Regions from separate parts of the Homo sapiens genome. Here region 2 is linked to region 1. The links come from fine-mapping of genetic effects on gene expression. A gene starts in region 1. The other region holds a variant in brackets. All regions are shown on one strand. Distances are from middle to middle.

Region 1 (5,302 bases):
TAAAGGGTAAGTTAATGGCCCATCCCCCTTCCCTCCAAACTTTGTGGAGGATCCCCTTTTATTCCTTCTCTTCGAATCCTTGCTGCTGCCCTCCTCCCACTTCCCCTTCCAGCCCTTACCCCACCCTGCCCAGCGCTACCTTCAGTCGACAGTAGAGGAGGGTGAGGACAATTCCATACAGAAACAGGATGGCATCCAGGATATAGCAGAGCTGAGGCTCTCCCAGGGCCGCTGAGGGGATAGAGGATGCCCATGGGGTCGGGGGTATCAGGGAGGATCTGGTACTCAGAGGAGAGAAGGGAAGGGGCTCTGGGAGGTAGGACAGGGCCTGGAGGGGAGCCGTCTAAGGGAAGAAATTCTGTTTCTCTCTGGCCTTCCACTGCCCTTACCTTTCCCTCCTCCCACACCATAGGGTCAGGCTAGGATAGGAAGCTTGAGGGTTCTATTGAAATGGGACTCACACGGACTAATAATTGAGGCCTTCCCCCTCAGCCCCCAACCTTTTCTTTTTAGCACTGTGGGTTCTTCAGGCACCATTGAGCACTTTATCCACCTCAAGGGACCCATCTGAGTCCACTGGACTGAAACCAAAACCTCAGCCAAGATGGGTAGTGGGAGGGAGAGGTAGTGGCAAATTTCAGTGAAGAAACCACAGAAGTGTCTCTACTAAGTCCTGTGACCTGTGGCTGAGGGCTGGACAGGAAGGATGTGAGCTGGGGAAGGGAGAGAAGGCAATTACTCTATCATTGGTCATCTCCTAGCCTCAGCCTTGTTGCTTTCTGTCCCACCACAAGACACTTAAATATGTAAAAAAAAAAAAAAAAAAAAAAAGTGTGTCTGTTTTTCCCAGACCTTACAGATACCTTTGGCCCTGAACACAAGGCTGGGGGAATGACCACAGCTATATGGATTCCAGCTCCTGTTACTCTGCCCTATTACTCACTCTCTGGGTCTCTGAGAGGGGAAGTTTTGTGCAATTTAAAAAATCAAATCAAGTCTGGGCTCCAGAGACTGCTCTCACCCCGTATCAGAGGACCAGTAGGGAACATGTGACTAACGTCAGTCAATTGCTGACATCGGTCAAGTACTTTTTATTCTGCAACACTCTTTCACACACACGATATTGCACAAATCTTAAAACTACCCTGTGAGGGAAACATCATCATCGCCATTTTATGGGTGACGAAACCAAGGCTCGGAAAAGCTAAGTAACTCACTCAGAGCCACAGAGTTAAGTGACAGAGCTGGAACTCAAATGCAGGTTTTCTGCCTCTAAAGCCCATGCTTTCCTTTGTGCCTCAGCGGGCCTCCTCCCTCCTCATCCCACGGCAGCAGACCAGTGGCTAACTTAATACTTGCTCCCACCTTCTCAGCTAGGCTGCTGGAATTCCTCCCCAGTCATTCTCTTTCAATTTCCACAGTTTCCCTGAAGTTTACTGACCTCCTCCTCCCCAACACCCAGCTGCCACCAACACACACACACCAATCCAGCACAGACAACACAGAGTGAACGAGGAGTGAGAATTCTTAGATAGTGGCTGGAGCTGTAGAGCTTCAGAGACCTTCCCATTTCTGCCTCTATTTCTCAGCTGACGCTCAGGTCTCTGGAACTGGGGATCTCATGCTGCCCACCCTCATTATCAACTGCTGACAGAATGGAGCATTAACAATGACCCATAGAAACAGCAATCCCGTCTGTTTGTCTTGGCTATATCCTTGCCTTACTCCCAAGCACAAGAACAGAGTCCTACCTTCCTAAAGGGTTATCTCTCTCTCTCTCTCTCTCTCTATATATATATATATATGTGTGTGTGTGTGTGTGTGTGTGTGTGTGTGTGTATGTGTGTGTGTGTGTATATAGATAGATAGATAGAGATATATATGTAAAATCTTTTTTTTTTTTTTGAGACGGAGTCTCACTCTGTCCCCCAGGCTAGAGTGCAGTGGTGCGATCTTGGCTCACTGCAACCTCCACCTCCTGGGTTCAAGTGATTCTCCTGCCTCAGCCTTCTGAGTAGCTGGAATTATAGGCACCAAGGGTGCTTTGTATATTAAACCAGCTAGAGATCAGCTCCCAGCAGACAAGACCAAAGGCACCCCATGGGAAATGCTCATCATGAGAAATGAGGCTTTTCACCAGACCAGCTCTTCATGCCATACAACCAGACCCTTCCCCTGCCACTTTCTATCAACCCTGAAAAGAGAAAAGTCAGCCAGGCACAGTAGCACTTTGGGAGGCCGAGGTGGGAGAATTGCTTGAGGCCAGGAGTTCAAGACCGATGTGGCCAACATAGTAAGACCCTGTCTTTTTTTAATAATAATAATAGCTGGGTGCAGTGGCTCACACCAGTAATCCCAGCACTTTGGGAGGTCGAGGTGGGTGGATCACTTGAGTCAGGAGTTCAAGACTACCCTGGTCAACATGACGAAACCCGGTTTCTACCAAAAATACTTAACTTAGCCGGGCGTGGTGGCGGGCACCTGTAGTCCCAGCTACTCGGGAGCCTGAGGCAGGAGAATCGCTTGAACCCAGGAGGCAGAGGTTGCAGTGAGTAGAGATTGCGCCACTGCACTCCAGCCTGGGTGACAGAGCAAGACTCCATCTCCAAAATAATAATAATAATACGGAGAAAAGTCTGGAATGAAGTAAGAAGGCAACAAGAAAGGAGGGAACTATGAGTCTAGTGCCCTGGGTCGGGGCTGGAGAGGACTAGCCTCAGGGTCTCCCTATGCCCACCTACCCACTGTCAGCCTTCCTTCACCTGTGTTTGACTTGGCCCTCAGACCCAAGCTCTGGACTTCCACCCTGGAGCCAGCTCACGCTATCCCTCACCAAACCCTCTTACCTGCTTGTTCAACCAAAAGGAGTAAGAGCAAGACCACTGCTGGAATCATCTTGGGCTGGAGATCGGCCGTTCTGACAGCACTGTGCAGCTGTGCTCAGCGAGCAGTTCCCTGACCACAGAGTCCCCCTCTTCCTGCCACGCCTTCCCCCATGCTTTGGCCCCTTCCCCTTCCTGCACAAGAGACCGGGCGGCTCCCGGAAGGGCCAACTAAGGGAGTTGGGAGATCTGGGCTCTTAAGCGTCAGCCCTTCAATGACCAACTCCTAACCCACAGAATGAGGAGACTTTCACGCTCAGGAAAGGCTGTCTACATCTGCCATTTTCCACTCCACCTGGTTCAGATTTTTTTTTTTTTTTTTTTTTTTGAGACGGACTCTTGCTTTGTTGCCCAGGCTGGAGTGCAATGGCGCCATCTCGGCTCACCGCAACCTCCGCCTCCCAGGTTCAAGCGATTCTCTCAGCCTCCCGAGTAGCTGGCATTACAGGCATGCACCACCACGCCCGGCTAATTTTGTATTTTTAGTAGAGATGGGGTTTCTCCATGTTGATCAGGCTGGTCTTGAACTCCTGATCTCAGGTGATCCATCCGCCTCGGCCTCCCAAAGTGCTGGGATTACAGGCGTGAGGCACTGCGCCCGGCTGGTTCAGAGATTTATCTGTGTGAAACTGCCCGTCAACATTCCCTCAGACCCCACTATAGCCCTTTCCCTCCCAACTTTACCCCAGGTCTTGATTTGAGTGGTTTACCAAGTTATGTGGGCACTGAGAAGGTTTGGGCAAGGAGGGAACTGAGGCGAAAGAGGAAATGGGGAATAGAGAAGTGGAAAGGACAAGAGTCAGAGAAGGGGGTGGAGACGAGCAGGAAAAATTGCTAAGACCTGACTGAATCTAACAGGAATGGAGGGTTAATGAACATTCTTAGGTTTACAGTCCGAGTGAAGGACACTAAGATACTGAGACACTAAGATACCAGAAGTTTAGGCCTAGGGGCCGCAAGACGGCTAATTTATTATAATTTCTCCTTTTTTAGTACATGCACAGAAAGCCTGACAGCCAAGTGTACATGAACATACACACACACACACACACACACACACACACAGAGGCCAATTTCCAGTGAGGAACAGGCTCCACAGAAGAAGCTGATAGGCAGGGGGGATCAAACGCTGCTCCCCTGCTCACCGATCTACTTCTCCAAATACAATATCTTGGGTACCTAGGTGAGAGGATGGAGGAAAAAAGTGATGTTACTTATCTTCCTGTTGTGAGGCAAAACAAACAAAAAAAGTGGTGTTACCCAAGATCCAGAACCCATTACTGTGCTCAAAAGATTGAGGACCCGAGTCCATGCCATGGCCTATGGTGAACAGGAAGTGTTCTCCTTCTGTCCCCAGTGGGCGTCCCGAACTCCTTTGTCTAGGATACCTCTACTACACAATAGGCCTCGTACCTATGATGGCAACGACATCTGCCAACATGTGTCCCTTAGACATCTTGTCCAAACCAGCCTAGGGAGATTGAGATGGCAACAATGTTAGTTAAGACTTGCAAGGTGGGAGGAGAAAGAAGAGTTCATAAAAACCTCAACCAAGGTCAGGTTTAATTCATTGGAGTTATAGTTACTGGGATTGATTCTTACCAGATGGGCAAAACCAGGAGCCTTGATCTTGCATCGATAAGGGCGGCTGCTGCCATCAGACACCAGGTACACCCCAAACTCTCCCTGTTCAAGGAAGAAGGTTGGGTGTCTGTATTAACATGAAGAGTATTTTTCTCTGCCAACAAAACCTCTATTCATTCTGTTTTCTCTCTCATTGATGAATGAGCTATTTGTTAAACATCTATCTTTAGCTACCTACTCTACATATGGTCTTTTCCTTCCCCTCCTCTCCTTACCTTGGGAGCCTCAATGGCAGTATATGTGGCTCCTGGAGGAACTTGGTAGCCCTCAGTATACAACTTAAAGTGATGAATCAGTGACTCCATGGAAGTCTGAAGAGAGGAAACAGGGAGCATCAATAAACCATATCCAAACTCTGTCTCCTAGGCCTCCCCCAGCACAGAAAATAATCTCTACCCTCAGGGAGACTAAAGCCACATGTCAGTCAGTAAGCAGAGAGGATACAGAATAAAACAGGAGAGCTATGGGAGATTAAGAATCTCTTATATGGCCGGGTGCGGTGACTCACGCTTGTAATTCCAGCACTTTGGGAGGCTGAGGTGGGCAGATCAAGAGGTCAGGTGTTCAAGACCAGCCTGGCCAACAGAGTGAAACCCCGTCTCTACTAAAAATACAAAAATTAGCTGGGCGTGGTGGTGGGTGCCTGTAATCCCAGCTACTCGGGAGACTAAGGCAGGAGAATCGCTTGAACCCAGGAGACAGTGGTTGCAGAGAGCCAAGATCATGCCACTGTACTCCAGCCTGGTGAAAGAGCGTGACACCGTCTCAAAAAAAAT
Region 2 (5,377 bases), 550 kb after region 1:
AGACAATTTTATAGAACAATAATTATAAATCTGTGTTAATGACACACATGTATAAAGATGTAATTTGTATGACAATAACAGCAAAAAATGTGGGCAGGAGAAAAAGCTGTGTGAGAACAAAGTATTATATTATTGCAATTAAGATCATTGTAACCTCCAAACCAACTATGAAGAAAATAAATACAGTAAAAAAAAAAAAATGACAAGGGAACTTAAGTGTACAGTAGAAAAAATATATTTAATACAAAAGAGGGCACTAATAAAGAAAGAGAAGAACACACACACACAAAAAACCTATAGAAAACTAATAGGAAAATGGCAAACATAAATCCTACCATATCAGAAATTACATTAAATATAAATGGATTAAACATTACAAATAAAAGGCAGAGGTTATTAGAGTGGACTAAAAAAAATGGGTCCACTATATGTTGTGTACAAAGGACACAGTTTAGATTCAAATACACCTATAGGTTGAAAGTAAAAGGTGGAAAAAGGTATATTATGTTATGGAAGCAATAACCAAAAGAGAGCTGGGTTTAGAAACTGAGATCAGTCAAAATATGATTTAAGACAAAAATTGTTGTAAAGACAAAGAAGGACATTTTATAATAATAAGAGTTAATGCATCAAGAAGATATAACAATTATTAATATATATGCACAGAGCCCCAAAATACATGAAGCAAAAACTTACTGAATTGAAGGGATAAATAGACAATTCAACAATAATAACTGGAGAATTCAATATCCCATTTTCAATAATGGATTGAACAACTATACATAAAATCAACAAGGAAATAGAAGACTTAAACAACATTATAAACCAACTAAACTTAACCAAAGTCTATAGGACACTTTACCCAACAACAGCAGAATATGTGTTTGTTGTTCTCAAATGCACATGGAACATTCTCCAAGATAGACTATATGTTGGGCTATAAAACAAGTCTCAACAAATATGAAATGACTAAAATTACAGAAATGTCAAAAGTATGTTTTTAACCACAATGGAGTGAAATTATAGATCAATCACAGAAGGATATTTGGAAAATTCATCAAGCTACATACTTCTAAATCAAGCTACATACTTCTAAAACAATGGGTCAAAGAATAAATCATAGGGGAAATTACAAAATACTTTGAGATGAATAAAACTAAAAATATTACATATCAAAAACTTATGAGATGCAGGAAATCAATGCTTAGAGAAACTTTTATAGCTGTAAATGCCTAAATTAAAACAGAAAGATCTCAAATCAATAATCTAACCTCCTACCTTAAGAAACTATAGGCTGGGATTAGTGGGTCATTCTTGTAACCCTAACACTTTGAGAAGCTGAGGCAGGAGGATCACTTGACCTCAAGAGTTCAAGACCAGCAACGTAGTGAGACCTTGTTTCTACCAAAAAATTTAAAAAATTAGCCAGGTGTGGTGGCTCATGCCTGTAGTCCCAGCTACTTTGGTGGCTGAGGTAGGAGGATTGCTTGAACCTAGGAGATCAAGGCTGCAGTGAGCTGTGATTGTGCCACTGTACTCCAGCCTGAGTGACACAGTGAGACCCTGTCTTGAAAGAAAGAAAGAAAGAAAGAAAGAAAATAAACTATAAAAAGAAGAACTAAGTTCATTAAGAAACTATAAAAAGAAGAATAAACTAAGCTCAAAGCAAGCAAGAGGGAGAAAATAATAAAGATAAAAATGGAAAGAAATGAAGGAGAGAATACAAAAATAAGAGAAAAACAAATTTAAAGTTTGGTTATTTGAAAAGATCAGCAAAACTGACAAATGTTTAGGTAGACTGATAAAATGAAAAACGGAGAAGACTCAAAGGACCAAAATCAAGAATTAAAAGGGGATATTACTATTGACTTTAAAGGAATAAAAATGATTACAAGGGGGATAGTATGAACAATTGTATGGAAATAAATTAGACGAAATGGAAAAATTTCAAGAATCACACAGACTACCAAAACTGACTAGAGAAGACAGATGCGATAGATCAGATAGATAAAGGGAGGGTTCTTGCTTGCAATAGAATGCCAAATATGGAGTGAGGTGCTAAAGTGAAGAAAGTTATTATTTTGTAACTATCACAATTAAGACAGGCTCAGGCAAAAATTATCAATGGATGCTAAATCTCAGAGGAAATTTTGATGAGGAGTAAGATGTCTGCATGGCCTTCCACTGTATGCCAACACATAGTTATTAGTTAAAATCAAAAAAGATAACTATACAATAGAGAAATCTGGCAATCTGTTGGCAATATATTGGCCAGGTGATTAAAATTAACATTATCGATGAGAAGACATCAAGGGTCTCTAGATGTGATACCTTGAGGGTACAATGTCACTTGTGTAGTACCTAGTCTGGGAATGCATAATGTGAATCTAATCATAAGGAAATACCAAAAAACCCCAAGTGAGGAATTTGCTATTAAAAAAGAGAGGCTGTAATCCCAGGACTTTGGGAGGCTGAGGCAGGCGGATCATGAGGTCAGGAGTTTGAGACCAGCCTGACCAACATGGTGAAACCCCATCTCTACTAAAAATACAAATACAAAAAAATTAGCTGGGTGTGGTGGTGCATGCCAGCTACTCAGGAGGCTGAGGCAGAAGAATCGTTTGAACCCGGGAGGTGGAGATTGCAGTGAGCCGAGATTGTACCACTGCACTCCAGCCTGGGTGACAGAGCAAGACTCCACCTCAAGAAAAAAAAAAAAAAAGG[GA/A]AAGGGTGGGAAGACTGCATTCTTCAAATATATCCATGTCATAAAGGAGAAGATATAGCTGTGGAAATGTTACAGTTGAAGGGTACTAAAGAGATACAACAACTAAATGCAATACCTAATACTGGACTGGATCCTGACCTGGAGGGAAAATTATGGTTACAAAGGGTCAACCGACAAAATTGAAATGCAAACAGTAGGTTAGACAAGAATATTGTTATCAATGTAAAATTTACTTAAGTGATAACTATATTGTAGTTGTGTCAGAAATTATCCTAATTCTTTACACTGATGTATTTAAGATAAAGAGCCATGCCATATGCAACCTACCCTATAATAGTTCAAATAGAGACAGAAAGAGAGAGAGAGAGAGAACTAGCTAATATTAAAGCAAAATGGGCAAAACATTACAGAGAGGTATTCACAGTCACAGCCAACTTGTAGACCCCTCCCTGCAGGATATTTATAAGCGTGTTCTTTGTACTATTATTAATAATAATTTTTTCTTGCAGCTCTTTTGACATTATTTTCAAATAAAAAGTTAACTACACAGATTAATGAAAGGTCTGCAATACTTATTTCCCCTTGATGGTCCTTCAAGATGCTGAGGGTCTGTTCTGCATTTACCACATCCTCTTCTTTCCTTGTATAGGCCTCTCCTTTTATAGACCTGTGAGTTCTCAGAGTACATTATCATTTTCAACCTTGAATTCCCATTGAAACCCTTGAATTCCCATTGAATCATCTGCCAAAGACGACAGTTTATTTTTCTGTTGATCCAATCAAGAAAAGGAGAAAGCTTCCATGAATAATAAACAGATGGGGACTACAAGTTCCTGTGACTCTGCCGGGCTCTGCCCAATGTGTCTCTCCATTCTGGCTCCCAGGCTACAGGAGCACAGCCTCTGTCAGTCTTGCTATCTCTGGCAGAGGACAGCAACACAGAGCAGAAGGACCTCTTTAAAGCCTAGGTTTAATAATGACAACATTTTCATGCTTAAATCCTTCAAGGATAGGCTCGTTGGAGAGCCTACAGGGTTCTACTGATCCTTATGTGGCTTGGTTTCTGTGATTTTCTCCTGTCCAATTTCTAGTTTGGCCCCTCCTTTGCACTGAATGCTGCAACCTTCCTGAACTGCTAGCAGTTCCCCGAATTTACTCAATGCCTTTGCTCAAGCTTTTACACTTCCTGGAATCCCCTCCCACTCCTCGTTGACCTAACAAACTCCCACTCATTTGTTAAGACTCAAACCAATTGTTGCCTCTCCAAAGTCCAAGAACCACTTCTTAGGAATAGGACTCTCTCCCTGGTCCATAATCACCGTTTCCCACCCTCTTTGTGATAGGAATGATTACTACAAAGAAGACTTAGAAATCGTCAGCAGGGAAGCCCATAAAATTTGCATTTCCTAATTTTCTGTAATCTTGGTGGAGGACAGGAAGGAAGTGGCCAGGCCAAGGCCGTCTGGCAAGTTACCAGCAGGGCTGAGGCTGGAAGTCAAATACACATTCTCCTTTCTTTGTTGATACTACTGGGTACTCCCTGGGGCTTGACCCATTGCCCTTCTTATGTTCGAAAATGTCTTCTGGACTCTGTCAAACCCTAGACAACTCAATTTTGCAGGACCTTCTAGGGGGGCAATGTTGGAGGGCTTGTTGGCTCCTAGAGAGAGCACTGGAATGAGCATGTTTGGTTGGTCTTCAAGCTTATACCTAGTACCCAGAACCACATTTCAAGCTTCTGGGAGGTTGTGTGGTATAGGGGAAGGAGCATGACCTTTGGAGCCAGACAGCCTTGAGTTTGAGTTCCAGAACCGTCATTTACCAGCTTCTGAACCTCAGGAAAAGTAAACTTTCTAAACCTCGGTTTCCGTATGTGGATGATTTTTAAAATCAGGATTAAATGAGATAACCTCAATAAATCATTCCACATAAAGTCTGCCATACAGTAAGTGCTCAATAAGTATTAGTTGCCTTCCTCTGTCCCAAACTTCTCCTTCCTCTCTTCTGGGCTGGCAACTCTAATTTTAATGAATTAAGACAAGATCTCTTAGCTTAAGTTTCCCCAAGTGTAAAATAAGAGGGAAATGGTTGTATAACTCATATGACCCAGATCACGGCTTCTTTCTATTTTGCTTTTATCAATCTTCTCAATCAGGTCTGTGTACTGAGCACAAAGGCTGCCCATGGGTGTGACATGAACAACGGAGGTTTTGCTCTCAGAGGAAGTGGAGAGGGGTTGGGAGGTACCTGGGGAAATGCAAATTTCATGGCTAAGTAGGACTTCCCTAGGTCTGCTGACTTCCAAGATGCTTCTGAGGCATAATTCCAGTGATGATGTGAAGGTGTGGGGCCAGTTCTACCCCCACCAAAAAAGGCCACAATCAGTATATTCATTCCACAAACATTTTTAGCACTTGCTGTATGCCAGGCATTGTTAGATTGGGGAACCATGAAGGTAAATAGAGCATAATGAAACTCAATCAGGATATGGGTGGATTGACCTAAACCCAAGAGATTTGGTTTCTGGTTACGGCTTTTCAAAAACTAGCCATATGGTAAGTCCCTTAGAAGTTTTAGTCTCTAAGTATTAGCTTTCTTGGGGTGAAATGAAGGAGTTGAAAATATGACTTCTATATTTGTTTGCTTTCCTTC

The links.
Region 2: its variant is fine-mapped to the expression of FCER1G in monocytes (Schmiedel 2018, PIP 0.95).

Annotation. Positions count from the first base shown.
Region 1 is chr1:161,212,915-161,218,216 of GRCh38, reverse strand. It overlaps FCER1G (Fc epsilon receptor Ig), which reads right to left and starts at 2,922. Exons shown (of 5, transcript NM_004106.2): 1 at 2,847-2,922; 2 at 140-231. The coding sequence starts at 2,895. It overlaps NDUFS2 (NADH:ubiquinone oxidoreductase core subunit S2), which reads right to left. Exons shown (of 14, transcript NM_001377299.1): 11 at 4,742-4,837; 12 at 4,485-4,568; 13 at 4,296-4,353; 14 at 3,822-4,061. The coding sequence ends at 4,024. RefSeq lists an enhancer at 15-1,001.
Region 2 is chr1:160,664,489-160,669,865 of GRCh38, reverse strand. No RefSeq gene overlaps it. Among named protein-coding and RNA genes, the nearest start is that of SLAMF1, 20 kb to the right of the region's middle. RefSeq lists enhancers at 3,811-4,372, 4,386-4,445. The variant GA/A (reference allele first, on the strand shown) is at 2,725.